Linked DNA regions of Homo sapiens: all the other regions are linked to region 1. The links come from fine-mapping of genetic effects on gene expression. A gene starts in region 1. Each other region holds a variant in brackets. All regions are shown on one strand. Distances are from middle to middle.

The links. PIP is the estimated chance that this variant, and not a neighbour inherited with it, causes the effect.
Region 2: its variant is fine-mapped to the expression of COG4 in whole blood (TOPMed, PIP above 0.99). The same link has a PIP of 0.9 or more in lung, prostate, spleen, thyroid and tibial nerve.
Region 3: its variant is fine-mapped to the expression of COG4 in prefrontal cortex (GTEx, PIP above 0.99).
Region 4: its variant is fine-mapped to the expression of COG4 in spleen (GTEx, PIP 0.96).
Region 5: its variant is fine-mapped to the expression of COG4 in whole blood (TOPMed, PIP above 0.99).

Annotation. Positions count from the first base shown.
Region 1 is chr16:70,521,439-70,526,537 of GRCh38, reverse strand. It overlaps COG4 (component of oligomeric golgi complex 4), which reads left to right and starts at 2,984. Exons shown (of 19, transcript NM_015386.3): 1 at 2,984-3,165. The coding sequence starts at 2,995. It overlaps SF3B3 (splicing factor 3b subunit 3), which reads right to left and starts at 2,722. Exons shown (of 26, transcript NM_012426.5): 1 at 2,610-2,722. RefSeq lists enhancers at 1,441-2,178, 3,212-3,351.
Region 2 is chr16:70,479,180-70,484,278 of GRCh38, reverse strand. FCSK (fucose kinase) reads right to left here. Exons shown (of 24, transcript NM_145059.3): 23 at 4,876-5,099; 24 at 4,005-4,700. The coding sequence ends at 4,599. COG4 (component of oligomeric golgi complex 4) reads left to right here. Exons shown (of 19, transcript NM_015386.3): 14 at 310-426; 15 at 1,458-1,550; 16 at 2,104-2,187; 17 at 2,414-2,515; 18 at 2,792-2,920; 19 at 3,135-3,708. The coding sequence ends at 3,269. Among named protein-coding and RNA genes, the nearest start is that of FCSK, 27 kb to the right of the region's middle. RefSeq lists a silencer at 5,079-5,099. The variant A/C (reference allele first, on the strand shown) is at 2,582.
Region 3 is chr16:70,646,483-70,651,581 of GRCh38, reverse strand. It overlaps IL34 (interleukin 34), which reads right to left and starts at 5,023. Exons shown (of 6, transcript NM_001393494.1): 1 at 4,607-5,023. The coding sequence starts at 4,634. RefSeq lists an enhancer at 1,291-1,791. The variant G/A (reference allele first, on the strand shown) is at 2,626.
Region 4 is chr16:70,470,401-70,475,499 of GRCh38, reverse strand. FCSK (fucose kinase) reads right to left here. Exons shown (of 24, transcript NM_145059.3): 11 at 5,074-5,099; 12 at 4,428-4,529; 13 at 4,148-4,318; 14 at 2,895-2,959; 15 at 2,147-2,517; 16 at 1,161-1,371; 17 at 806-972; 18 at 489-710; 19 at 7-150. Among named protein-coding and RNA genes, the nearest start is that of FCSK, 18 kb to the right of the region's middle. RefSeq lists an enhancer at 3,735-4,670. The variant C/T (reference allele first, on the strand shown) is at 2,846.
Region 5 is chr16:70,571,777-70,576,875 of GRCh38, reverse strand. SF3B3 (splicing factor 3b subunit 3) reads right to left here. Exons shown (of 26, transcript NM_012426.5): 26 at 1-5,099. The coding sequence ends at 5,063. Among named protein-coding and RNA genes, the nearest start is that of SNORD111, 36 kb to the right of the region's middle. RefSeq lists an enhancer at 1,135-1,204. The variant A/T (reference allele first, on the strand shown) is at 2,684.

The sequences.
Region 1 (5,099 bases):
GACATTTCTGTATGGGAAATTCTGGATGAAGACAGCAGAACCAGCAGAGCAAGCCCTATTAAGAAACAACATATGTGACCGGGCGTGGTGGCTCACGAGGTCAGGAGTTCGAGACCAGCTTGGGCAACACAGTGAAACCCCGTCTCTACTAAAAATACAAAAATTAGCTGGGCATGGTGCTGTGCGCCTGTAGTCCCAGCTACTCGGGAGGCTGAGGCAGGAGAATCGCTTGAACCTGGGAGGCGGAGGTTGTGGTGAGCCAACATCATGCCACTGCACTCCAGGCTGGGCGACAGAATGAGACCTCATCTCAAAAAAAAAAATAAATAAATAAAAAGCACGGGACCTTGAGAAATCCAAGGTCATTAGTATAGAATTAACATACATATTTGATTTTATTGTTAAACGAGAAGAGAGAATTATGAGTAAACGTCCTCATAAATAACTTTCTGGGCTGAGCAAAAGCAGGGTGGCAAGATCAATGCTCCAGGCTAGAAATGGGTCCTGAGAGATATAAAATTTTCTACTTGAGACTAAGGTATATCTTTTTTTTTTCCTTTTTTTTTTTTTTTTTTTTTTTGAGGCGTCTCAATCTGTCGCCCAGGCTGGAGTGCAGTGGCGCCATCTTGGCTTACTGCAAGCTCCGCCTCCTGGGTTCACACCATTCTCCTGCCTCAGGCTCCCGAGTAGCTGGGACAACAGGCGCCCGCCACCACACCCGGCTAATTTTTTGTATTTTTAGTGGGGTTTCACCATGTTAGCCAGGATGGTCTCGATCTCCTGACTTCGTGATCCGCCCGCCTCCGCCTCCCAAAGTGCTAGGATTACAGGCGTTGAGCCACCGCGCCCAGCCCATAGACTAAGGTATATGTTTAACGTTCTAGGACCACAGTAAAACATGAACGAAAAGGACCGATGTTGAAAGACCAGGGAGTGGAGAAACAACAAAAAAAGCAAAAGAGAGGAAGCTAGGAGCTGCTTCTGAATCCCTGAACAGCTCCCCGCAAGTTACTTTTCATATTTTGTAGCTGATCAAAACAGTCTACTTTCCCCTTTCCTTATAACTGATACAATCCATTACAAACCTTTGGAATTCATTTTTTCCCAAATCTAGTTGGATTCAGGTTCTCCAGCGACACCTTAACTTTGGATCGTGGAGGAAGGTGCATTTCGGAGGATCAGTCCAGTACTAGAAAAACTATATACGAGGCCAGGCGCAGTGGTGGCTCACGCCTGTAATCCCAGCACTTTGGGAGGCCGAGGCAAATGGGTCACTTGAGGTCAGGAATTGAGACCAGCCTGGCCAACACAGTGAAAACCCCTCTACTAAAAATGCAAAAACTAGCCGGGCGCGGTGGCACACGCCTTTAATCTCAGCTACTCGGGAAGCTGAGGCGTGAGAATAGCTAGAACCAAGGAGGAGGAGGCTGCAGTAAGCCGAGATCAAGCCGCTGCGCTCCAGCCTGGGCGACAGCGAGACTTCGTCTCAAAAACAAAACAAACAAACAAAAAATACATACCAGATAAATTTGGTAAGCTTTAAAACTTCCCCCACGTCTGGGCCGGGCGCGGTGTCTCACACCTGTAATCCCAACACTTTGGGAGGCCAAGGCGGGTGGATCAAGGTCAGGAGATCGAGACCATCCTGGCTAACACAGTGAAACCCCGTCTCTACTAAAAATACAAAAAATTAGCTGGGCGCGGTGGCGGGCGCCTGTAGTTCCAGCTACTCGTGAGGCTGAGGCAGGAGAATGGCGTGAACCCGGAAAGCGGAGCTTGCAGTGAGCAGAGATCGCGCCACTGCACTCCAGCCTGGGCGACAAAGCGAGACACCGTCTCAAAAAAAGAAAAATTAGCCGGGCGTGGTGGCACGCGCCCGTAATCCCAGCTAGTCTACTCGGGAGGCTGAGGTAAGAGAATCGCTGGAACCCGGGAGGCAGAGATGGCAGTGAGCCGAGATCGCGCCACTGCTCTCCAGTCTGGGCGACAGACTGTGACTCCGTCACAAAAACAAAACAAAACAAAACAAAAAAAACTTCCCCCACGTCTGTTTACCATTATTACAAAAAGCTTGTATGATTGCTCACTGCATCTTCTCCATCCTCCAAGGAAACATCATCGCATTTAAACTCTGTCCTCCATTACGCAAACGAGAAAATAGAGGTTCAGAGGAGGAGACAAGTTGCCCAACTACCAAAATACAAATTCAAACCGGAGTCTTGGCTCTAAAGACTGTTTCCGTTATTTACGCTTTTAACACGCTCCATCTTTCTATCTTCCCCTCGGTGTACCATTTACTCTACCCAGAGGGAGACATCCATGCCTCCCGCTGCTTGTCACACCTCCCCCGTCTCAGAGTCCCCAGAAGTTAAAAGCAATCTCCACGAGCCCTATTTTGAGATAGAATATGTTCCCACACTGTGGATGGAAGCGAGAGATAACTGCAGGAAGCCGTTTTGGCGCCTCAACCATCCCTCGGTACCTCCTCCTGGTCCCCAGCCTCTCGGGCCTAGACTGCCCGTGACCCCCGCCAAAGTCTCGGGTCCCCCTTCCATATGGCCGGTCTCCGCCTCCCCGGGCCCGGGGAAGTCTCCAGGCTGTTTTTTTACCCTGCAGCGAGAAGGATGGTGTGGATATCCAACGGATGCTACCTCCCTTCAAAACTTAAGCCACCACCAACTCCAACATACTGGCGTCCGCCATTAGACCTCAAGACAGGGACATTCTGGTGGCGCGCGGCGGAAAAAGGCACCCAATCCGCGCCTGAAGAATATATATAATTTTTAAAAAATGCTTCCGTCTTGCTTCCACACGGCATTACAAATTATTTAAACATGCTTTATTGCTTTGCTTTTTCCAGGAGAATAGAAAATTAATACGTTTTTAGAAGTAGACTTTAAAAAAAAAAAACCATTAGAGTTCATTGGGCACTTCTGTGGGCAGCCCCAAATAGGCGCCAACGAAGAGGGGGCCTCGCGGGACCGGAAGTGCCGAATGGGGACCAAGATGGCGGACCTTGATTCGCCTCCGAAGCTGTCAGGGGTGCAGCAGCCGTCTGAGGGGGTGGGAGGTGGCCGCTGCTCCGAAATCTCCGCTGAGCTCATTCGCTCCCTGACAGAGCTGCAGGAGCTGGAGGCTGTATACGAACGGCTCTGCGGCGAGGAGGTGCGGGGTCGAGCCTCTTCTTTTTCATGGAGGATCTAGGGAGAGTGGGAGCCTTCAGTCGGGAAATCCGGGCTGTGGGAAACTCTCCTTGCTGGGGGATACAAAAAAGCGGGAAAACAAAGAAGCGGAAGCTAGTCGGGTATATGAGTAGTCCTGTCAACTCTTTTCACGCTGTCGGACGCGCCGAGCTTGTCTTCCCTGATACCTGGGCGATCTGCAGCCTCTCCTCCCTAGACCCCCGTTGATTTCCCTGATCCATGATCACCAGTTTCTCCACGGGAGTAAAGTTAGTCTGAGAGTATTTGCCAAATTGCTTGGTTCTCAAAATAATAAGCGCCCTTTTGCATTGGCTTAATTTACAAATTATGAAACGCTCTCATCCTGTTATTTAAGAGGGAAGCCTTTGCAGATTAACTTCTTGAAGCGTTTTAAGACTTCCTCTTGTGGGGAGTGATTTGGGGGTGTGATTTTAGCGTTTTGGTCAAATGCACATCTTTGTAGAGGTTTAGCTTTTAAGACTCAGACACAATTCTCTAATCTTGGACAAGTCACTTCATCTCTGGTACCCTTGATATTTTATCAAATGAGGGGTGTGGACTATTCTCCAATTCCTTTCAGTTCATAACGTTCTATTTCCTGCCTCCTTTAATTTTCAGTGGCAACTCGATGCTGTCAATTCACTTTCGAATGTCAGTTGGGTTCCTTGCTAGTCAAAAGAGATCTAAGCTCTAAGCTTGTCAGCTGTTTCCCAGACCAAACTTCTAGCAAAGTTGAGCACAAAAGGCAGTTTCAGCCTGAGGGAGAGGTGATCGTTGATATCTTTGAGTATTTTCAAGTATAAACTTGCACTAACTCTAGCAGTTTCTGATACGTTTTTCAGCAAGATGTGTGTGGTGTTTTTTGTTTTGTTTTGTTATTTTTAGAAACAGGGCCGCTCTCTGTTGCGCAGGCTGGAGTGCTGTTGTGCTGCAATCAGAATGGATGAAACCAGAGGCGCACACCACCGTGCCTGGCTAGTTTAGTGTGTGGGGCTTTTTTTGTCTGGCCTCAGCAAGATGTGTTTTAAAATTTAGTATCTTGCGGGGCGCGGTGGCTCACGCCTGCCATCCCAGCACTTTGGGAGGCCAAGACGGGAGGATCACCTGAGTCAGGAGTTCGAGACCAGCATGACCAAAATGGTGAAAACCATCACTACTAAAAATACAAAACTAGCCGGGTGTGGTGACGCATGCCTGTAATCCCAGCTACTCGGGAGGCTGAGGCAGGAGAATTGCTTGAACCTGGGAGGCGGAGGTTGCAGTGAACCAAGATAGCGCCATTACACTCTAGCCTGGGCAACAAGAGCAAAATTGTGTCTCTTAAAAAAAAAAAAAGCCTGGCGCGGTGGCTCACTCCTGTAACCCCAGCACTTTGGGAGGCTGAGGCAGATGGATCACGAGGTCAGGAAATCGAGACCATCCTGGCTAACACAGTGAAACCCCGTCTCTACTAAAAATACAAAAAATTAGCCGGGCGTGGTGGCGGGCGCCTGTAGTCCCAGCTACTCGGGAGGCTGAGGCAGGAGAATGGCGTGAACCAGGGAGAAGGAGCTTGCAGTGAGCCGAGATCGCACCACTGCACTCCAGCCTCGGCGACAGAGTGAGACTCTGTCTCAAAAAAAAAAAAAAAAAAAATTTAGTATCTTGACTTAACATTCCTAAGCTCGCATTCATTCAGTCATTTAATATGTTGGGTGGAAAATTATGGAAATCTTACAGACAAAATGATATAAGTACTGTATTTGTATTCCATGACTGTCAAGAGGACGTTTTCCTCTGGAACCTACAGAACGATTTTAATAAAAATGTATATGGCCGGGCTTGGTGTCTCATGCCTGTAATACCAGCAGTTTGGGAGGCCGAGGCGGGTGGATCACCCGAGGTCAGGAGTTCGAG
Region 2 (5,099 bases), 42 kb after region 1:
TGCCCAAGGTCACTCAACTAATACATGACTGAGCCAGGACTTGAACCTAGGAATGTCTGACTCTAAAGACAGGAAAAACTTTCTGGTATTTCTGTTTCTTACTCACTTCCCCGACATTGGTACCCCCATATTACAGAGGGGGAAGTGGGAGCCAAGTGGATAACCACCAGGATAGAATCCAGGTTTTCTGAAACCCATCCGGGCTCTTGACAGGCCATAGCTGGCTGGAGGAGTAGAACTGGCTGGTGGCTCCTCACACTCCCATGGCCCACGCGTGCTCGGTGGTCTTACAGCAGTGTTCTCCCCTAGAGTGACTGCACCAAGCTCTTCAGCCAGGGCATTGGAGGGGAGCAGGCCCAGGCCAAGTTTGACAGCTGCCTTTCTGACTTGGCCGCCGTGTCCAACAAATTCCGAGACCTCTTGCAGGTAAGCCCCAGGTTCAACTGCTGACTGAATCCTGTGCCTGTGTGTTGCTCTGAGAAGATTGTTAGCTGGCTCATCGTGTGCAAGGAAGCCAGGAGGACGGGTGAGGGAGCAGCACGCAAGCCCTGGAGCCTGGAGTTGTGCAGGTCCCTTGAGACTAAAGGCCCTGTTGGTTTCTCAGCAGTGAAGTTGTCACACTGACAAGCCAACATCTGGTGCTCTAGACTTTGCACTTGGCCCCACAATGACAAGAGCTCTCAGAAGATGCTCAGAGGAAGTGGAGCCACATGGTTGTTCTGACCTAGCCGCAGGTGCTGCCTAACATTGAGCATTCTGAAATCTCTTGTGAGAGTTTATCAGAACAGTCTCAAGGCCTCATCGTTACCCTGGACCTGAATCAGCTGAGATCTGGAAAGGGGCATGTTCCTGGCTCCTCCTTTCATTAGCACTAGCTCTGTTATAACCTCCAACAGGGCCTGCAGAAAGCCTCAGGGCTGGAAGAACGCCCTGCAGTCAAGGGATGGGGAGAGGAGAGAGGGAAGGGATGGGGAGAGGAGAGGAGGATGGGGTGGGGAGAGGAGAGAAGGAAGGGATGGGGAGAGGAGAAGGGGATGCGGTGGGGAGAGGAGAGAGGGAAGGGGTGGGGAGATGAGAGGGATGGGGTGGGGAGAGGAGAGAGGGAAGGGGTGGGGAGAGGAGAGAGGGAAGGGGTGGGGAGACGAGAGAGGGATGTGGTGGGGAGAGGAGAGAGGGATGGGGTAGGGAGAAAAGAGGGATGGGGTGGGGAGAAGAGAGGGAAGGAGTGGGGAGAGGAGAGGGAAGGGGTGGGGAGAGGAGAGGGAAGGGGTAGGGAGAGGAGAGGGAAGGGGTGGGGAGAGGAGAGAAGGAAGAAATGGGGAGAGGAGAGAAGGAAGGGATGGGGAGAGGAGAGGAAAGGGATGGGGAGAGGATAGAGGGAAGGGATGGGGAGAAGAGAGAGGGAAGGGATGAGTCGTGCCTTCTGTGTCACATGTCTCCACCTTGTCCTTGTGCAGGAAGGGCTGACGGAGCTCAACAGCACAGCCATCAAGCCACAGGTGCAGCCTTGGATCAACAGCTTTTTCTCCGTCTCCCACAACATCGAGGAGGTTAGCCTGGCCACAGGCAGCCATCAAGCCCCGATGACCCCTCATCCCTAGCCCCAGCTAGAGGGAGCAGAGCCATCTGAACAGACTAGACCTTCCATGCTTCCCAGGCCCACTTCCCCCACCCTGACCCATGAAGACTAGGTTCCTCCCAGGAAACAGTTTGTCCCTAGTCAGAAGGGCTCAGAAAGACATGGAGTTTGCCTTGACCTAACTTATTCCCTTATTGGAGCTCTTTTTGCCCCGCCTATGATAGACTTAGAAGCGTTTTTTTCCTCCTGGCGTAGTGATTTCATTCCTGTAGAACAAGAGATCCAAGAAGGAATAAAATGCCAGGAACTTTACCATGTTATGTGGGCCACTGCTACAGCCCTGGGCTGTTTGCTGGTCAGTTTCTGCCAGCCTGGGTGTCTGAGCTGGTTTTAAACTAGATGAGTCAGAAGGCACAGGGAAGGAAGAATGTTTTACATTATTTTCTTAGAGGGATAGAGGTGGGTGGCAATGAATGGTACTTCTTATGAGGCCCATGGTGACCAGCCCTGCTTCCTGACAACAGGAAGAATTCAATGACTATGAGGCCAACGACCCTTGGGTACAACAGTTCATCCTTAACCTGGAGCAGCAAATGGCAGAGTTCAAGGTGAGCAGGGGCCCTAGGGATCCACTTAGGGAATTACCCACGTCAGCCCAAACCAGCAGCCTGCAGGGTCTCATCACATTCCTTCTGGGGACCCTGAAAGCCCTTCCAACCCTCACCTGTAGAAACTCCCCCGTGGCCTCACGCTACTATCCTCACCACCTAAGACTCCAGCATAGAGGCAGAGGAGTTAGGTGGGGCTCGGCTGATGTCAACCCTCTGTGTGCAGGCCAGCCTGTCCCCGGTCATCTACGACAGCCTAACCGGCCTCATGACTAGCCTTGTTGCCGTCGAGTTGGAGAAAGTGGTGCTGAAATCCACCTTTAACCGGGTAAGGTAAAGGGGTCATGGGTCTGCGGCTCTCGTTTCTCCTCTGAGGAAGACATGTCATGCCACC[A/C]CCCCCAGGACTTGCATCCCCTCTGTCTGCTGCCCACAGGCCCTGCATGTCTGGGTCCAGTCCTGCTCTGGCTTCTGAAGCCGTAGAGCAAACAAACCACAGGGCACCACCTGAGGCCTGGCGGGCCTTGCCACCCAGCTCTGGGGGCAACTGGAGGCCAGTTCTGCTTGGCCAGGCCTAAGTAGTGACTGGGCTTGGGTTCTCCTGCAGCTGGGTGGTCTGCAGTTTGACAAGGAGCTGAGGTCGCTCATTGCCTACCTTACCACGGTGACCACCTGGACCATCCGAGACAAGTTTGCCCGGCTCTCCCAGATGGCCACCATCCTCAATCTGGAGCGGGTAGGTGGGGCACCCTTGGCCCAGCCAGGGAGGGGTGACTGAAAGAGGCAAAGATGGATCCCCGCCACTTCCCTCTAAACCATGTCTGCCAGCAGCCAGCTCTATAGGACACCTTCCCCTTCCCGGGTGCCCCTGCTCTGCCCCTGGTAGAGGCCAGAGCCCTCTTTCAGAATAACCCCACCTTGCTGACTGGTCTCTATGTCCTTCCCCACAGGTGACCGAGATCCTCGATTACTGGGGACCCAATTCCGGCCCATTGACGTGGCGCCTCACCCCTGCTGAAGTGCGCCAGGTGCTGGCCCTGCGGATAGACTTCCGCAGTGAAGATATCAAGAGGCTGCGCCTGTAGCTGCCTGGATGAGCACACCTGGCTCATCACACTTGCAGGCCTGTTCCCTAAGGGGCCCCAGCCAAGGAGCTGAGCGAGGCTGTCTGGCTTGGGGGAGATCTGACAGCCCAGACCTTTCTACGGCTGGCAGCAGAGAAACAAAGTCTGGACCCACTCCATGCTCTGCCCTCAGACCTGGCCAGGTGATGCTCTGGGGGCAGCATCTCCCCACCGAGAGAAGCGGGCTCCTAATGAGGTGGGAAAGCCACGGCAGGCAGCGAGCAGCCCAGGCCAGCTTTCTGCATGGATGGTCAGTCTCTTGCCCTCAAACACTACAGCAAACAAGCTACCCCTGCCAGTCCTAGACAACTTGGGTACATCTGGGGACCTAGCAGTTAGGCTTGACTTTGAGGAGAGGCTGTGATGTTTATGATCCCTGAATAAAGCTACTCCTTGGAGAGATGCCAGTGTGCTGTTACCAGGGAGGGCCAGATGCTATGGGGCAGGGCAGGTCTATCAGTTGCACTGAAATAGGAAGGTAAAACCCAAGACCTCAGCCTGCTCCCACACACAGTGCAGCACACAGCTGTGTCCGGGGCCCACATGATGGCAGGAGCCCCCATCCAGTCCCAGACCCTCGTGCCCCTCTTGGGCCCCCAGCACCACAAGCTGGATCACCCCAGGGCCAGTTCCCCATGGTGTAGAGAAGTGGGAACTGCTCCCAGCAGGAGCAAAAGTGACTTTACGAGGACCACCTGCAAGGACAGAGTGAATTTATTCCAAGAATGCCAGTCCTGAGAACCCACTTCCCACAGGCACCAGGTCACTTGGCACGCTCCGTAGTTTTGCTAGTTAAGGCCTGGGATGGCAGTGAATCACTGGGTCACTGCTACCAACTTGGCAAGGGACCGCCACCCTCACTCCCACGCTCACATGAGGGTTGAGTGTAAGTCTACAACTCTAAGCCATAGGGAATGCCTCAAAGGGCCTCTTCAGGGTTGGCCTTGCTAAGGGACTCCCAGCCATATGCCAAGGCTGGCTGTCAACCCTTTCCAGGGCCCTTGTGGAATGAGAAGGCCAGCCATAGGATTTGTAAAGGCCACGTGGGATACTAAGCTTGGGACCTTCCTATGTCCAGGAGGAACAGAGGCTACATCTAGGCCCCTGTCCACCAGGTCACAGTCCTGTCCCAGGCACTCTCTGCTTGCCCAGATCTTGCTCTGGTCAGCTTCCTTTGGGAGCAGATTCGCAGAGGTGGGTGGGGAGTAGGAGGTGGAGGTTCCCATGGGGCAAGGAAGGTGGGGGACACTGTAGCTCCAGGTTTTCTCCTGTTGCAGAGAGAAGCCAGCTTCATGGGAAAGGGCAACAGGTTGAGGCCTCGGTCCCCAGCAGCTTCAGGCTCAGGCCCTGAGTGTCCACTTCAACCAGGTGGATGCTGTAATTCCCAAGGCCCTGGACAAGACAGGAAGTATTTAGAAGGCTCTGGACAAATCTCAGGCCTTCTGGAGGCTGGACTGGGCCTGCAGGACCAGGGGGACTTACAGATATAGCCCCTGGTTAACTGGTGGGCCACAGTGAGGTCTCTTGCCCCCAGAGGTCTCTTTACCAACCCCAGCCCCATCAGTACCTCGGTCTTGGCCAGCACCGCCTCCAAGGCCTCCTTTTGCTGTGGCTCCTTGGTCAACAGATAGAGAAAGCCTCCACCGCCTGCCCCAGCCAGGCTCTGGCCATGCACGTGGGGGGCCAGGACATCCATCATACGCCGCACAGTCAGGGGCTCACAGCCTGGAGCCATGAGCTTCTTCTGCTCCCAGTACGAGGTCAGGCACTGGCCCAGCAGAGGCAGGCTTC
Region 3 (5,099 bases), 130 kb before region 1:
TCAGGCCTCCTGCCTCGCCTTTGTCCCTGCAGGACCTCCCACCAGGAGTGCCCTTGCTCAGCTCAGAGCCTCAGGTCTCCTCAAGCCCTGTACCCCATATAGCCCCACATTTTTTGCTAAGTTGCAAGTCTGCAATCTATCTTGCACTTCCTCTCTCCCTCTTCCCCTGTGCCTGATACAGTATTGGGTGAGAAGAACAGATAAACATGAACTGAACCAGTGTTTGGCCCTTTAACATCTGCTTACTTTCTGTCCTAAGTCCTGAACCCCTCAGCTTAGCATCTACTCTTGCAGGTCAAGATCATCCCTGCCTCCTGGGCTCATGCTTTGCCCTGCGCTAGGTACCCTCTCACAACACAGACCTCTTTCAAAGCCTCCCAGAGACTCTTCTCTCCCCCCCATCACCACGCCAGGGTCTCCCCTTTCTGCATCAGCCCCCATCGGTCTCTGTCTCCAGCACCACCTTCCCCATTCACTCATGACCTGGGATTACAGGTGCGCGCCACCACATCCGGCTAATTTTTTTTGTATTTTTAGTAGAGACGGCGTTTCACCAGGTTGGCCAGGCTGGTCTTGAACTCCTGACCTCGTGATCCACTCACCTCGGCTTCCCAAAGTGCTGGGATTACAGGCGTGAGCCTGTGTGTGAATCCATAACGCAGTTAAACACTGCACAGCCCAGCGTGCTGAGAACTTCACATGTGCATTTGGGGATTCGCCTCAAGCAGTAGAAATGGGAGCAGACATTGTCATCCCTTGCAGAGCTCGTTAAGGCACAGGTTGTCCTGCCTGCCCCAGAGTCTCTGCTCAACCAGTCTAGGATGCAGAGAGTCTACCTTTCTAACAAGGTCCCAGGTAAAGCTGTGGCTGGGGGTCTGGAACCACAGACCTAGAGCAACAGTTGCAAGCTGGTGTCCCGAGAGCCACCTCTGGTCCACAAGGATTTCACACAACAATTCAAAATTTCAGCTTTTCTTTAAAAAAATCAGTACCTCTGTCCACACTGGGTCTTTTTTCCTGTGTGGCCATCACCATTGGCCGTCTACTTCACCTCCCAACCCTACAGCACCTGCCCTTCTCTGTGTCCCGTTCTGGGGCCCTGGGGACCCGGCAGCTGTGGCCTCAAGGCAGGGACTGTGCCTTGGAGTGACACTGAGCCTCCCAGCCTGACACGGTGGGCACACAGCTGCCCTGGAAACCCTGTCCACAGATGATCTGCCTCTCCCCCAACTGGGCAGCCTTCCTCTGAGTGCAGCCCAAACATCATTGCTAAGGGCAAGTTTCTTTTTTTGCTGCCTCCACCCACCCAGAGAAACAGGTTAACAAACAGGGACCAGGCAGGGACAGCACAGCCCCAACCTCAAGGCCACTGTCCCCCACATGCTCTGCACACCAGGAACCCCACAGCCAGTGCCACCCCTGACCTTGGTCAGGAGACCCACCCTGCCCTTGTCTTAGCCCAGAGGTAAGAACCCACAACACAGGCTGGGCACGGAGGCTCACACCTGTAATCCCAGCACTTTGGAAGGCCGAGGTGGGCGGATCACCTGAGGTCAGGAGTTCAAGACCAGTCTGGCCAACATGGTGAAACCCCATCGCTACTAAAAATACAAAAATTAGCCAGGCGCAGTGGCAGGTGCCTGTAGTCCCAGCTACTCGGGAGGCTGAGACACAAGAATCATCTGAACCCAAGAGGCAGAGGATGCAGTGAGCTGAGATCGTGCCGCAGCACTCCAGCCTGGGTGACAGAGTGAGACTCCGTCTCAAAAAATAAAAATAAAAATAAAATAATAAAACAACCTGCAAGACAGAGAGGAGGCTTAAGAAAGATCTGTGTGAGTACGGTACTCCCTTCCTGGTTCCCTGGCCCTGGGTTGACCCTATGTGCAGTGACAAGTGAGGCTTGTCACCCCCAGCCCCGGGGACCAAATCTGAACCTGTGCAGTGGGTTAAATAGCATCTCCTCCAAATCCACATTCACCCGAACCCGAGTGTGACCTTGTTTGGAAATGGGGTCTTTGTGAAGTAGGAGGTAGGACCGACTCCAGAGGCAGAGCCCTGACACTGGACCAAACTGAGGACTAGTGAAAACAGGGGTGGACGGGGCAGAAGCAGCATTCCAAAAGACATGCTCAGCAGTGTGCCATGTCAGTTTACCATTGCCATGGCAACGCCTGGGAGTTACCACCGCTTTCCATAGCAATGACCCAATGTCCCAAAAGTTACTACCCCTTCCCTAGAAATGTCTGCATAAACTGCCCCTTAATCTGCATGCAATTAAAGGTGGGTATAAATATGACTGCAAAAGGCCCCGAGCTGCTCCTCAGTACGCTTCCTCTGGCACAGCCCTGCTCTGCAGGAGCTGGCACAGAGCTATAACATCTCTTCAGTAAAGCTGTTTTCTTCTACCACCAGCTTGCCTTGAATTCTCTCCTAGGGAAAGCCAAGAACCCTCGCAGGCTAAGCCCCCTTGGGGGCTCGCCTGTCCTGTGCCACTTACAGGCATTATTAAATGAAGGATGTCAAGATTAGGCCATCCTGGATTTAGGCAGTTCCCTAAATCCAGTGACTAGTGTCCTAGGAAGAAGAGGAGAGGACATAGAGACACACAAAGGGAAAGGCCAC[G/A]CAAAGACAAAGGGAGATCTGAGTGACTAGGCCACAAGCCAAGGAAGCCAGGAGCCACCAGGAGCTGGAAGAGGCAAGGGAGGCTCCTTCTCGGCACCTTTAGAGGGAACGCAGCCCTGCAGGCACCCTGATCTCACACTTCCGGTCTCCAGAACTGTGAGACGACACATTCCTGTTGCTCTAAGCCACCCGAAGCTTTCTAATTGGTTATGGCAGCCCAACTTCCTCAGCACCCCAGCCCCTGGGCACCAGCCCCCACCTCAATCTGCTGCTCTCCCTCTCCCTCATCCCCCAGCCAGTCTTTGCCTGGTCCTAAGACCCACCCCTCCTGGAGCTTTTTCCCCTCTCCCTTGCTTTTCTTTCTCTCTTTTTCTTTTCTCCTTTTTTTTTTTTTTTTTTTTTTTAAAGACAGGGTCTCACCCTGTTGCCCAGGCTGCAGTGCAGTGATGCGATCCTTGCTACTGCAGCCTCAACCTCCTGGGCTCAAGTGATCCTCCCACCTCAGCCTCCTGAGTAGCTGGGATTACAGATGTATGCCACCACACCTGGCTAATTTTCCTTTTTTTAGAGATGGAGTCTCGCTATGCTGCCCAGCCTGGTTTCAAACTCCTGGCCTCAAGCCGTCCTCCTGCCTTGGCCTCCCACAGTGCTGGGATCACGGGCGTGAGCCACCAGCCCAGCATCCCTTGCCTTTCATTCGCACCTCCACCTCCAGAATGACCCTCATTCCCTCCTGCACAGACGGTGACAGCAGTAACTCCTACAAACACCACCAGACTGATCTTCAAGAGCAGAGGAACTCCCAATCACGATTCCACCCCCGCCGGGCTCTCAAATCCTCCAGGGCTGCCTGCTATGGGGAGGGAGGCACACTTTGCTTGGCTCTCAAGGCCTCAGCCAGCCGGGTCCAAACCAGCTCCCAGCCTGGCCTCACCATCCCACCGCCAAACCTTTGCTCACACTGGCCCCTCTTCCTGGAACATGGGCCTCATGACCCCAGGTCTACCTGTGTGACCACCACCCCACCTTCTAGACCATTTCCAGTAGCCCCTCCCCCATGCTGCACCCCTGCTTCTCATGACCTAGGGGTTTCCAGAACATTGGGTCCAGCTGGGTCCTTCCACCCATCCTTAATGTCCCAACCCTTTGTTGTATATTTCCACAAGGGCCAGGGTGGACCCAACTCTTCTTTCAATCCCTCGCAGGCTCATACCCCAAACCTCCAACAGTTCCTGAGCACTCAACCCTGTGCCAGGCGTTGGAGACAGAGGCACGAGACAGCAAGGTCCTTGTTGTCATGGCAGTGACTCTGCAGTGGGCACGTGGGAGGCACCGGAAAAATGTGTTGAATTTGAGTCAATTGAACTGGATCTTGGAGACTGAGGGGATCTTGGTCTGGCCTCCCAGCCAGCAGGCATAAGAGGCTTCCAGATCCTTTTTTTCCTTTCTGTCCTCATTTCAACTTATTTTTCTTTTTACCAACAGTGTTATCTTTCTGCTTTTTAATTCTGTTCTGTTATGGAGGGAGGGTTGGAGGGGAACAGGCTGCCTTCTCCAGGCATCTGGCTGCTCTTCTGCCGTGGGTCTTGGGTCCCTAGACACTTTCACCAGCCCCTGCCCCCCTCCACCGGCCATACCCAGGACTGGGCCGCTGCTGCCCGCCCGGGGCTCCCCAACACCCACAAGCCTGGAAAGGTGAGATGCTGCCACCTACCCCCAGTGCCTGCCCCGACCTAAGACCACCCTGAGGACCATGCCCACCCAGCCAGAACTGCCCACCCAGCTTGCCCGTCGGAGCCCGAAGTGAGCGGCAGACAGGGCAGACGGCGGCCGTGGGAATCTCAGAGGGTGTCTGCAGTCCGGCTGGGAAGCATCGCAACTTCTCACCAGCAAGAATGCCCTGGTTGCTATGGTTACGGCAGATCCTGGATCTAGGCCAAGGCCTCCCAATGCAGGTCCCTAGGGACCCCCCAGTACTCACAGCGCAGCCAGGTGAAGCCCCGGGGCATGGTGGTGTTCCTCGTCCCCCTGAGAGCTCAGGCGCCGTCCCCAGCAGTGTGTCCACAGAGGCCTAAGCACGGCCTACATGGCCTCGGGGCAGCAGAGGTGGTCACTCAGTCAGGGAAGGGCTGGCCCTGGAGGAGTGGCTGGGCTGCGGGAGTGAGCAGGTGCCCCAAGGGCAGCAGCTGCCCTTATCTGCCCGGCAGCGTGGAGGACAGCCGGGGGGCGGTGGCCGCAAGTCCCATGGCAGCCCAGAAGCAGGTCTGAGCCGGTGGCTTGGGGGTCTTTCGGGGTCTTCCTTTCCAAGGAGCAGGAGGAGAGAGTCCCTGGCAGGCCCCTCGGAATCTGGGGCTGGGTGACGCTTTCTCTGATTTCTCCGACTGCAGCTGCTCAGTGTGAAATCTGGCTCTAGGAAGAGAAAGGAGGAGAGAAACTGATTATGTAAGAGCAGCGCTGCCACTCAGCCATCAGCC
Region 4 (5,099 bases), 51 kb after region 1:
GCTCACCCAGGCCAGAGCCGTGGGGCAGCTCAGACCAGGTGTGCAGCTCAAAGCCGCCCCCGAAGGTGCGGAGCAGCTGCTCACTCAGCTGGAGTTCCGAGTGGACATGCACGATCCCTGCACAGATGAAGGCCGCCTTCAGCAGGGCCCCTGCAGAAGGACAGGCATGAGAAAGGAATTCAGTCTCGATGGGCAGACGCAGGCACCCACCCACCCTGGACTTCCCAGCCCAGTGCGGGACTCATCCGGTGGGACAAAAGCCCAGCAGCAGTACTGGCCCCATCCCCAAGCCACAAAAGGGCCTCTGGGCTCCCAGACAGGGACACGTGTCATCTTTGCAGGTTGACTCCCAGCCCCTTCCTTCCCTTCAGGCTCCTCAGCCAGACTGGCTGGCCCTCAGGCCAGACCCCACTGGCCTGCAGTCTCTAGCTTCTGCCCCGAGCCCCCAGCTGGCCAGCCCCACCTGCAGAGGTCCCAGGGTGCCTGACCTGGGGCATGAGGCTGGCAGTAGTCCCGCAGGTCAGCCAGGCACCGGCACACTATCTTCACAGTCATCTCATCCTGCCGAGGCCCCACCGCCAGCCACAGCTCAGGCTCCGGGATGCGGCGTGCCCTGGCTCCGATGGGCCGGCGGCCGTCCACTCGCACAGCCAGGCCCAGCACAGCCCCGCCAAGCTCATAGGCAAGGGGTGGCGTGTCACTCCAGCCCCCTATGGCAGTGTGGCAAGACTCAAGCTGGTCACAGAAGCTGCCAGCCTGGCTCTGGGGCAGCTACCCTCAACCCCACCTGCCACAAGGGGCTCACCAGAGAAATCCACACGGGCCGGGCACTCAGCCACCACCCACTGCCCAGGTCCCGGCAGTTCCACCTGCTCTGTGGAGACAAAGTGCTGGGCTGACATCACAGCCTGGCGGATCAGGATCTGACCAGCCCCCTCATAGTGGCGGGCCGCTCGCACCAGCAAGGCTGGCCTGCCAAGAGAAGGGGGAGGGATGGTGGCATGCAGCCCCAAGCTGGGGGCAGATTGCCTGGCTTTGGGGACCTGACTGTCCCGGGGTACCCAAGGGAGCCCCACCTCTCTCTGGGTTTCCTCCATCAGGGTCCACTTCCCAGACAGCAAGGGGCTTATCCAAGGGATCTGACCTCCATTAGTACACACCTGCTTAGCCACTTGTCCCTCTCCTGGGCAAGCGCCTCCACGCCCGCTGCCAGGTCTCCACACTCCAGGTATGAGAAGGGCCGCATCCACTCAGGGTTGGCAGCTGGCCCGCTCCGCAAGCCCCCACGGCCCTCTGCCATGCAGCCCAGGACGTCCGCCACACAGGCCAGTGCCCGTGCCGCCACACCAGGGTCTCCTGCCCCAGCTGCAACTGAGGGACAAGGAGTTGGGGGTGGCAGGGGAGGAGGCCTGTCTTCAAAATCCTCTTTCACGAGAGGCTACTCAACAGTCCCTAAATGCGCCAGACCCCTCACACCTCCTGGCTTTTGCCCACAATGTATCTTTGACTGTAACTGCACTCCTGCTCTCTGCCTGGCAGAGATCATCTCGTCTTGCCAGTCCCAGCCCATAGGTGTCTCTTCACCCCCACCCAGGACACCCATAGTGGTGAAGAGCTCAGGCTCTGGGCTCAAACCACCTGGGCTCAGGTCTCAGCCTCACCACCAGCTAGCCGTGTGGCTCTGGGTGAGTGGCTTCAATACCATTCATGTCCACGGTCCCTGGGACCTTCCATGAGGTTCAGCCTAGGAGGCTAAGGCTGTGAGCCCCCGGAAGTGTGCTTGGGACCTCATGCAGAGATGACCATGTCCCCTGGGGGCTCTGTCCCCTCGCCACGCTCTGCACCCACATCCTGGCACCCAGTACAGAACACGCAGGGTTTGCCGATGTGCCTAGGACCTAGAGCTCAGCTGCCAGGCCTCAACCTCTGACCAAACCCCACTGACAAGGATGAACATGCCTCAACCTCAGACCAAACCCCATTGACAAGGATGAGGCCTTCCAGAATCCTAAAAGTAAACTCCAGCATGCCCCTTCCCTGCTTGAGCACCTCATGGTCCCCTAGTCCCCTCAGGGGATGGCCCAGAGGACAGGGAGGGCAGGTGCCCCTGGCCTGATTCTGCAGCACTACCAGCCTGCACACTCACCCTGGTCCAGCGTGGCCAGCAGGGGCCCGGGGCAGCCCTCGCGGACAGCAGCCCAGATCAGCGGGCGCAGGCTGAGGTCCTGCCGGGCCTCCAGCACGTGCCGCGCCTTATGCAGGGCCTGGCGGAAGAACAGGTCCCGGCGAGAGGCCAGCGTGGCAGCCCGATCCAGGCACGGCTGCAGCTGCTCCCAGGACAGGCGCCAGGAGGCCCGCCAGGCTCGCAGGGCCTCGCCCCCATCCTCCTGGTGGTCCAGCATCCACAGCAGGTCCTGGGGTCCCAGCTCCCTCGAGGGGTGGAGCACAGGAAAGAGGCGGGCGCTGGGAAGGCAGTACTCTGCGGGCAGCGTCTCAGGGTCCCACAGGTCCCAGGCTCTGATGTGGGGAGAAGGCACATTCCCAGGAGGGAAGCAAAAGCTCCAGTCTCTTCCCCAAGCCCTGAGCCGCCTGTCAGTTCATGGGGACAGGACAGACTCCTCCGAGGTAGCATAAGTGGGCAATTCAGGTCGGGGGCCAGGCTGCCTGGCATCCTTTCCCAGACCATTGAACAAGAAAGCCAAAGTCAGCACAGCCAGAGACTGGGAGCTGCCCGGGGGAAAGTACTGGAGAGAATCCGGCTGCCCAAAACCACCCAGGCCCCTGGATGGTAACACGGCCCGTGCTGCTCTGGGGCAGGGGAGGGACACACCTCAAAGAGCAGCAG[C/T]CACCCCAGCTGCCCAGGCCCACAGAGGCCCTAGGGGTGTCCACCTTACCGAACACCTGTCCTCTTGAAGAATTCACTCCAGGGCACGTTGAGATATGTGCCTGCCCCCTGTCTCTGGGGGAGAGGAAGAAGCAGTCAGGGCTGCAGGGGCCACAGGAAAGGGTTAGAGACACTCGGCCAGGGGGCCAGGAGCTGCTCAAGTGCTCACATGAGGGCAGGAAGACAGACAAAGAACATACTTGACCCACCCAGGCTGGAGTGCAGTGGTGTGGTCAGCTCACTGCAGGTATGAACTCCTGGCCTCCCACCTCGGCCTCCCAGAGTGTTGAGATTACAGGCATGAGCCACTACACCCAGCCATGGAGCAATTTCTGAAATTGTTTTCAGCCCTGCAGCCCCAACACTCCCGCCAAGGTGCCTGAAATCTGGAGCAGAACCCTGGGTTCCAGGCCCAGCCCACCACAACAGGCTGCAGCCCAAGGCGGGTTACCTCCCTCTCTGAATCCCAGTCTCTAGCCTGTCAAATAAGGATAAAAACCCCCACCCAGCCGTGCGCGGTGGCTCACACCTATAATCCCAGCACTTTGGGAGGCCGAGGCAGGCAGATCAGTTGAGGTCGGGAGATTGAGACCATCCTGGCTAACGCGGTGAAACCTCATCTCTACTAAAAAATACAAAAAAATTTGCCAGGCGTGGTGGTGGGCGCCTGTACTCCCAGCTACTCAGGAGGCTGAGGCAGGAAAATGGCGTGAACCCGGGAGGCAGAGCTTGCAGTGAGCCAAGATTGCGCCACTGCACTCCGGCCTGGGAGACAGAGTGAGTCTCAAAAAAAAAAAAAAAAACAACAACCCCACCCAACCAGACTAGCATGGCGAAACCCCATCTCTACTAAGCTGGGCGTGGTGGTGCACGCTGGTAGTCCCAGCTATTCGTGAGGCTGAGGCAGGAGAATCGCTTGAACCTGGGAGGCAGAGATTGCAGTGAGCTGAGATTGGGCCACTGCACTCCAGCCTTGGTGATAGAGCAAGACTCTATCTCCAGAAAAAAAACAAAATCCCCACCCAGCCCACCTGGCAGAGCAGATGCAAGGAGGGAGGTAAAGGCCTGTGGAGACTCTGCTGGTCTCACAGCCTATCTTCACCCTATCTCCTCCCTCATTCTCTCCTCCCTACATCCGACCCTCCTCACAGCCTGTCCCACGGGCCAGTGCTCAGAGAACCCCGCAGTGGGGTGGGGGCCAGGACTCCTTGGGCTCCCCAAAGCCTGAAGATGGGGGTGAGGGAATGCAGGGTGACTGCCTACCTCCCAGCTGTCCAGACGGCCAACGAGGGTGAAGGCGTGGCCCGGGGAGCCGTGTAGCCGCGTGTGGTGTCCCTGCAGGACAAGGTCACGCAGCTCCCGGCCATGCAGGGCCTTGGAGTGGGCTGTATCCAGGCCAGTCACCAAGCAGCCAGCGCCTATGTGAATGGGGCCCTGGTGGGGGACAGGGCAGGCATCCTGGGTGGGCAGGCACCCAACACCCCCCAACACATGCGGGATGCCAGCACCCTCGCCCCAATCTGCCCACACGCTCAGGCCTCACCTGCAGGTGGCAGTGCTGCAGGACGCTCCCAGGACCCAGCTGGACAGGGCCCTCCAGCAGGCAGCTGACCACAGAGCTCCCGGCCGCCAGAAGCTGCTGCTCCTGTGCAGCCAGGTAGGAGGAGCATGAGGGGGGTCGAGGCCCAGGGCTGCCCCAGCTCTCCTCCCAAGCCAAGCATCCAGGGGCAAAGCGTCCAGGCCTACTGCTCCCCTGCCCTGCAGCACCCTAGACTCCTCTCTGGACCTGCCTTGGCCCCAGCCTGAGACCTATTTCCATCCCACCTGTCCAACTACGCCCAACCTTGCCACCCTGGGGGCCACCTCTGAACCCTACCTGTCCCCTTCCTCAGCAGCACGGCACTGACCCAGGCCCACCACTGTCACCCCAGGCAGACCCCAAATAAAGGTCTCCTTTAGCTTCTCAATCAGGCAAGCTCAATGCAGAATCCTGAGTTGGCCACTTACTGGCTCTGTGGCCTTAGGCAAGTTACTTAGCCTCTCTGAGCCTCCAGCACTTCATGTGTAAACCAGGGTAACACCTGCACTCGGGTCATCTGTTCCAAGTGCCGGCTATTTTCTTCCCGGGAATCCACATCCCACCTGACCCCAGACAACCAGCAGGCACCGGAGGGGCAGGGAGGTCTCACCTCCACCTGGGAGTGCACAATCTGGG
Region 5 (5,099 bases), 50 kb before region 1:
TTACAGGTGTGAGCCACCATGCCAGGCCCAGTAAATCAGTCTTATTCTACCAATTTACAGGCAGGAAACCAAGACTATGCTTAGAGGCTAGTGAGCCCAGGTCATCTGACTGTATACAGTGCTCTCTTCATGGACTTTGCTGCCTCTTGGCATTTGGCAGGTGGAATCTCGTTTCTGATTGCTTTATGAGGGCAGCATTGCCTTTCTCCAGTTACATCATCGACTCCCTAAAGCTGAGATTCCCCAGTGTGTCCTCATAACAGCTGGAGGCCCTAATAACCCACAGGAAATGGTAGTACTTCCCTTGACCATCACGTGTTACTAGCTTATACACATATACTCACGGCTCCAAATTAGTAACTTCTAAGCCTAAACGCTACCAAATGACCCAACTGAAAGCACCTCTCCTTTCATTATGAGACTGCAGTCAGAGAAGGGAGCAAGTTCTGCTGAGTGGACCTGGGAATTTAAAACTTGACTAGGCTCTGGAAGGCAGAGTGAGAGGTGGGAAACTGAAGGGGGCTTGCCTCTGGGCACCGCCAGAGATGCTGCATACGGGGGTGGGGTGGGGTAGGGTGGGGCTAACAGGGCCCCTCAGCTATTCCAGATGGGCTGGCCCAGCTCCTTTTCCAAATCTGAAACTTCCAAACCTGGTTTTCTTTGATATTTTTTTTCTTCATTTTGAACAAGCAGCAATGTTCATTGTCCATCACAGCTACTGATCATAACACTGGACTGTGAAGCAGACACATGCCCAGACATCACCAGCAGACTCTTTTTTTAAAAAAAAAAAAACAGGGCTTCACGCCCGGCTTTTTGAATTTTTTGTAGAGATGGGGTCTGTTTCCTAGGCTGGTCTTAAACTTCTGGGCTCAAGCAATCTGCCTGCCTCTGGCCGCCCAAAGTGCTGGGATTACCAGGCATGAACCACCGTGTGAATAATTGGGAGCAGACCCCAGGAATCTGTTCTGACAAATGAAGAGGGTTCTAATATCCCACTAGGATTATGAGCCACAACTACAGGTTTCCTACCATTTCCTGACCTAAAACCCCTGCTGCCCACTCCCCACCTCTTCATTTTTCAGACTTGGGACCTTCTGATTTTTCCTGAAGTCCCAAGGTTGTGGCTGAGGAAATCAGATGCAGGCTGCAGGCTCTTCTGAAACTGGTGGCAGGCCCTCTGGCAGACTCACCTCACCACCAACCTCACAGCGACAGAGACTGCCTGGTTATAAACTCTCCTCCAACCTCTGGGTGCAGAACAGAGCTGGGAGGTGGTGGTTCATGGTAGGTGCCCAGTAAACGTTTGTGGAAGAAATGAGCGTAGCAGCCTCTTCTAGTGGGTCAGCATGTCTCCTGATGGCTTAAACAGCTCCTGGCCAAGTGCAGTGGCTCACGCCTGTAATCCCAGCGCTTTGGGAGACCAAGGTGGGTGGATCACCTGAGGTCACGAGTTCGAAACCAGCCTGGCCAACATGGTGAAACCCCATCTCTACTAAAAATACAAAAATTAGCCAGGCATGGTGGTGCATGCCTGTAGTCCCAGCTACTTGGGAGGCTGAGGCAGGAGAATTGCTTGAACCCAGGAGGCGGAGGCTGTGGTGAGCCGAGATTGTGCCTCTGTACTCTAGCCTGGGCAACAGAGTAAGACTTCATCTCAAAAAAAAAAAAAAAAAAAAGAAAAAAAAGAAAAAGAAAAAGAAAAAAAAGAGAAACAACTCTTGGTTGTGCTGGTTCAGACTGGTGTGTAGCCTACACCTGCCCATTTCAGTTCACCTGAACTTCACAGGGTGTGTTGGGCTACCAGATCACTCAAATGTCAATCAACCATGGCCAAGCAGGTGTTTTAAGAGTCCCTATCTTGTCCTCGAGAGCCATCTATTCCTTTCCTCCGTTGTGACGTTTTTTGGACCAGGTTTGATTTCAGCAGCAGAGATGTTTCTTCTGAGCTCTACATATAGCCCTTGAAAATTAATTTTAAGGGTGTAATAAAATATTCACATACAATATTCCATATGCAAATGAGCAAGTGGATGACTCAAACACATGTCATTTTTACTTTGAATAGAAAACAGAATTTAGAGGCTGGGCATGGTGGCTCACGCCTGTAATCACAGCACTTTGGTAGGCTGAGCTAGGTGGACCACTTTAGGCCAGGAGTTCGAGACCACCCTGTCCAACATGGTAAAACCTTCTCTACTAAAAATACAAAAATTAGCTGGACGTGATGGCACATGCCTGTAGTTCCAGCTATTTGGGAAGCTAAGGAGGATCGCTTGAGCTCAGGAGATAGAGGTTGCAGTGGGCTGAGATCGCACCACAGCCCTCTAGCCTGGTCAAGAGAGAGAGATTCCATCTCTAATAAACAAACAAACAAAAAAACAAGAATTTATGACCAGGCGCAATGGCTCACACCTATAATCCCAGTGCTTTGGGAGGCCAAGGCAGGAAGATTTTTTGAGGTCAGGAGTTCGAGGCCAGCCTGGGCAACACAGGGAGACCCTGTCTCTACAAAAGTTTAAAAATTAGCTGAGTATGGTGGCACACATCTGTAGTCTCCCCTACTCTGGAGGCTGAGGTGGATTGCTCGAGCCCAGGAGTTCAAGCCTCAGTGAGCTATGATCACTCCACTGCACTCCCAGCTAGGCAAGAGAGAGAGACTGTCTCTAATAAAATTTTTTTT[A/T]AAAAATTAAAAAATAAAACAGAACTTAGGAATTAAAAAAAATTTGAAAGCCAGACTGATCCCATCTGAATGCCTTTCTGGCTTTCCTCTAACAAGCTCAAGAAAGGCAGCAGCGTGGGAACAGCACACATTCTGGGGACCAGCACTCTCCCTGTGAGACGAGCCTTTTCCAGCGCCGGCAGCTGTCTCACTAGCAATACATTTACACTAACCAAGAAAAGCAACATTCCAACTAGAACCCCCCTCCTCCAAAGGAATGCTATTCTTGGCAAGAGATCTTCCAAAGGAAACATCTGCAGAACCTCTGCCAGTAAGGTCAGGGGAAAGCTGAGGCAGCTAAAAACTTTTCAGTCCTAGGATCCAAGTCACAAGGGCTTAGCAATGGAACAGGATGGAAGCAAACCCAAGGGCAGATCCCTCTGTCTGAGTTCTGCAGCAGCCTCTGATGGGTTTTGCCAAAGCTGGAGAGAGGTCTCTATTTACCTGGTTGCTCAATCAAACCACAGGAGTCAATCAGGTCCCCTTAACAATTACACAGATGGGACTTGTCATTGAGTCACATCCAATCTAATTTTAAACTTTTGTAGGTCCTGCAGCAACAACTATGAAAATTCCTTTCCACATATTCAAGCCCAAATCCTTGTCCTAGCCCTTCCTCTTAACAGAGAACAAGCAAGCTGATGGGCAGACTTCCAGAGGAAGCTCGGTGGTGACAACTCCTGATTCCATAGATTAGGTTTTCCTTTCTTACATAACCCCCTACCTTCTGTACGGAGTGTATGTATTTTAGTCAAACTTGAGTTAGAAAAGAGGCGAGGAGCTGCTCAAGTATCTACGCTGAGTTCCTCAGATGACTGCATGTCAGTATCACACAATTTGATAGAATGGATTTAGGGCCACAGGAAAAAATGAGCCCTGAAATTAGGTTTTCAAAATCTAATTCAGAACTACTGTCTACTATGCAAATTCATGAGCTAAGTGAGAAAAAAACATGTTATTTAGGGATTCGATTCCTGGCAAAACCTGGGTCTCTCTTGACTGATCTAAAACCAAGTCATGATTCAAGAGATACTTAGTTCCAGGAGACAGTGTCACAGTGTCAGGAACCCTCTGTTCTGGGCTCTGAGAGGTTCAGATTGTATTCCACCATTCCTGATTCTAACCCAGTGCTCACCAGATCATTTGCTCAATTTAGATGGCTGAGCACATGCAGACGAAAGAAAGTTTTACATTTGTGAAGTATTGAGAACAGTGAGCTCACTTCTCCAGGTTCAAGGCGCAAGGACAGCCTGGAAGACGAGGGCTTCCCACACAACTAAACAGGAGGAATTCTCAGGGGTGGGCTGGAACATTTCTGGAACTGGGCCTCTTCCACCTAACAGGCTCTCATTATACCCTAAAGGCCCTCTGGAACCCACCTGAGATGGGTGCTGCAGACAGGCCCCACATATACACAGTTCTCAGGGGCAGGGCAGTATCTAGGTTCTTCTGTACTGACCCTTCCTATGGTCCTATGGAGCCAAAGATCGCTTTAGGTGCTGTATCAGTAAAAGGGGCATCTGTTAAGACTCCCCAGCTAGAATTCATGCTAAAATCCCCATACTAACATCCTCAGAGTAGAAGAGGAGGAAGAATCAGCCACCCTTCCTCAATACCCAGTGGGAAGAGGGGTGGGTATACACATGGTTATTGAGGTCATGTTTCATCAGCACAGCAAAAAGAACCAGGAAAAAACAAAGAAACCACCACAGACCTGGGGGTGGGGAGCCACAGAGTGCCGCAAGTCCAAGTCGGTATCTGGAAGGAAGGAGTCTACTCAGTTCTTCCTGCTCTAACTTGGGTTCAAACCTCCCACCTACATCCTCATCTCCAGAACAAGACACATGGATGCCAGTCACCTTAAAAACTAGGTTTCTATTTCTGGTTAGATTCTAGAGCAGTGGAACTCAGGAGTGATACTATACCCTACCCAGTCCCACCACAGCCTGCCTCCTTCCTCCCACAGAGATAACATTGTACAAAACTGTATTTACAAGAAAACCAATTAAAAATTAAGGGTGTGTGCAAAAGTAGACAGGAGAGTCAAGACATATCAATGCAGGGATGGCTTTGGGGAATGGGGGACTCAGGTTCTACACTGGAACCTGGGGTCATGTATCATGTACCAGGTGGGGAGAAGTGTAGCAAATCTCAGTGCCAATTTGAGGGGAAGCCAGTCATTCCAGGAGAAGAGCTGAGGGGAAAGAGCTGTTGACTTTCATAATGCAGTCTTAATTATCCAGTCACCCTCCTGCCACATGGCAGAAGCCAGGTGGCAGTGATGGTGGTGGGGGAAACAAAACACACAGTCTCTGGCAAGCCCCACCGGGAAAGGAGGGCTCAGAAGGCGTAGCGGGTCCGGATATCCTCGAGTTTC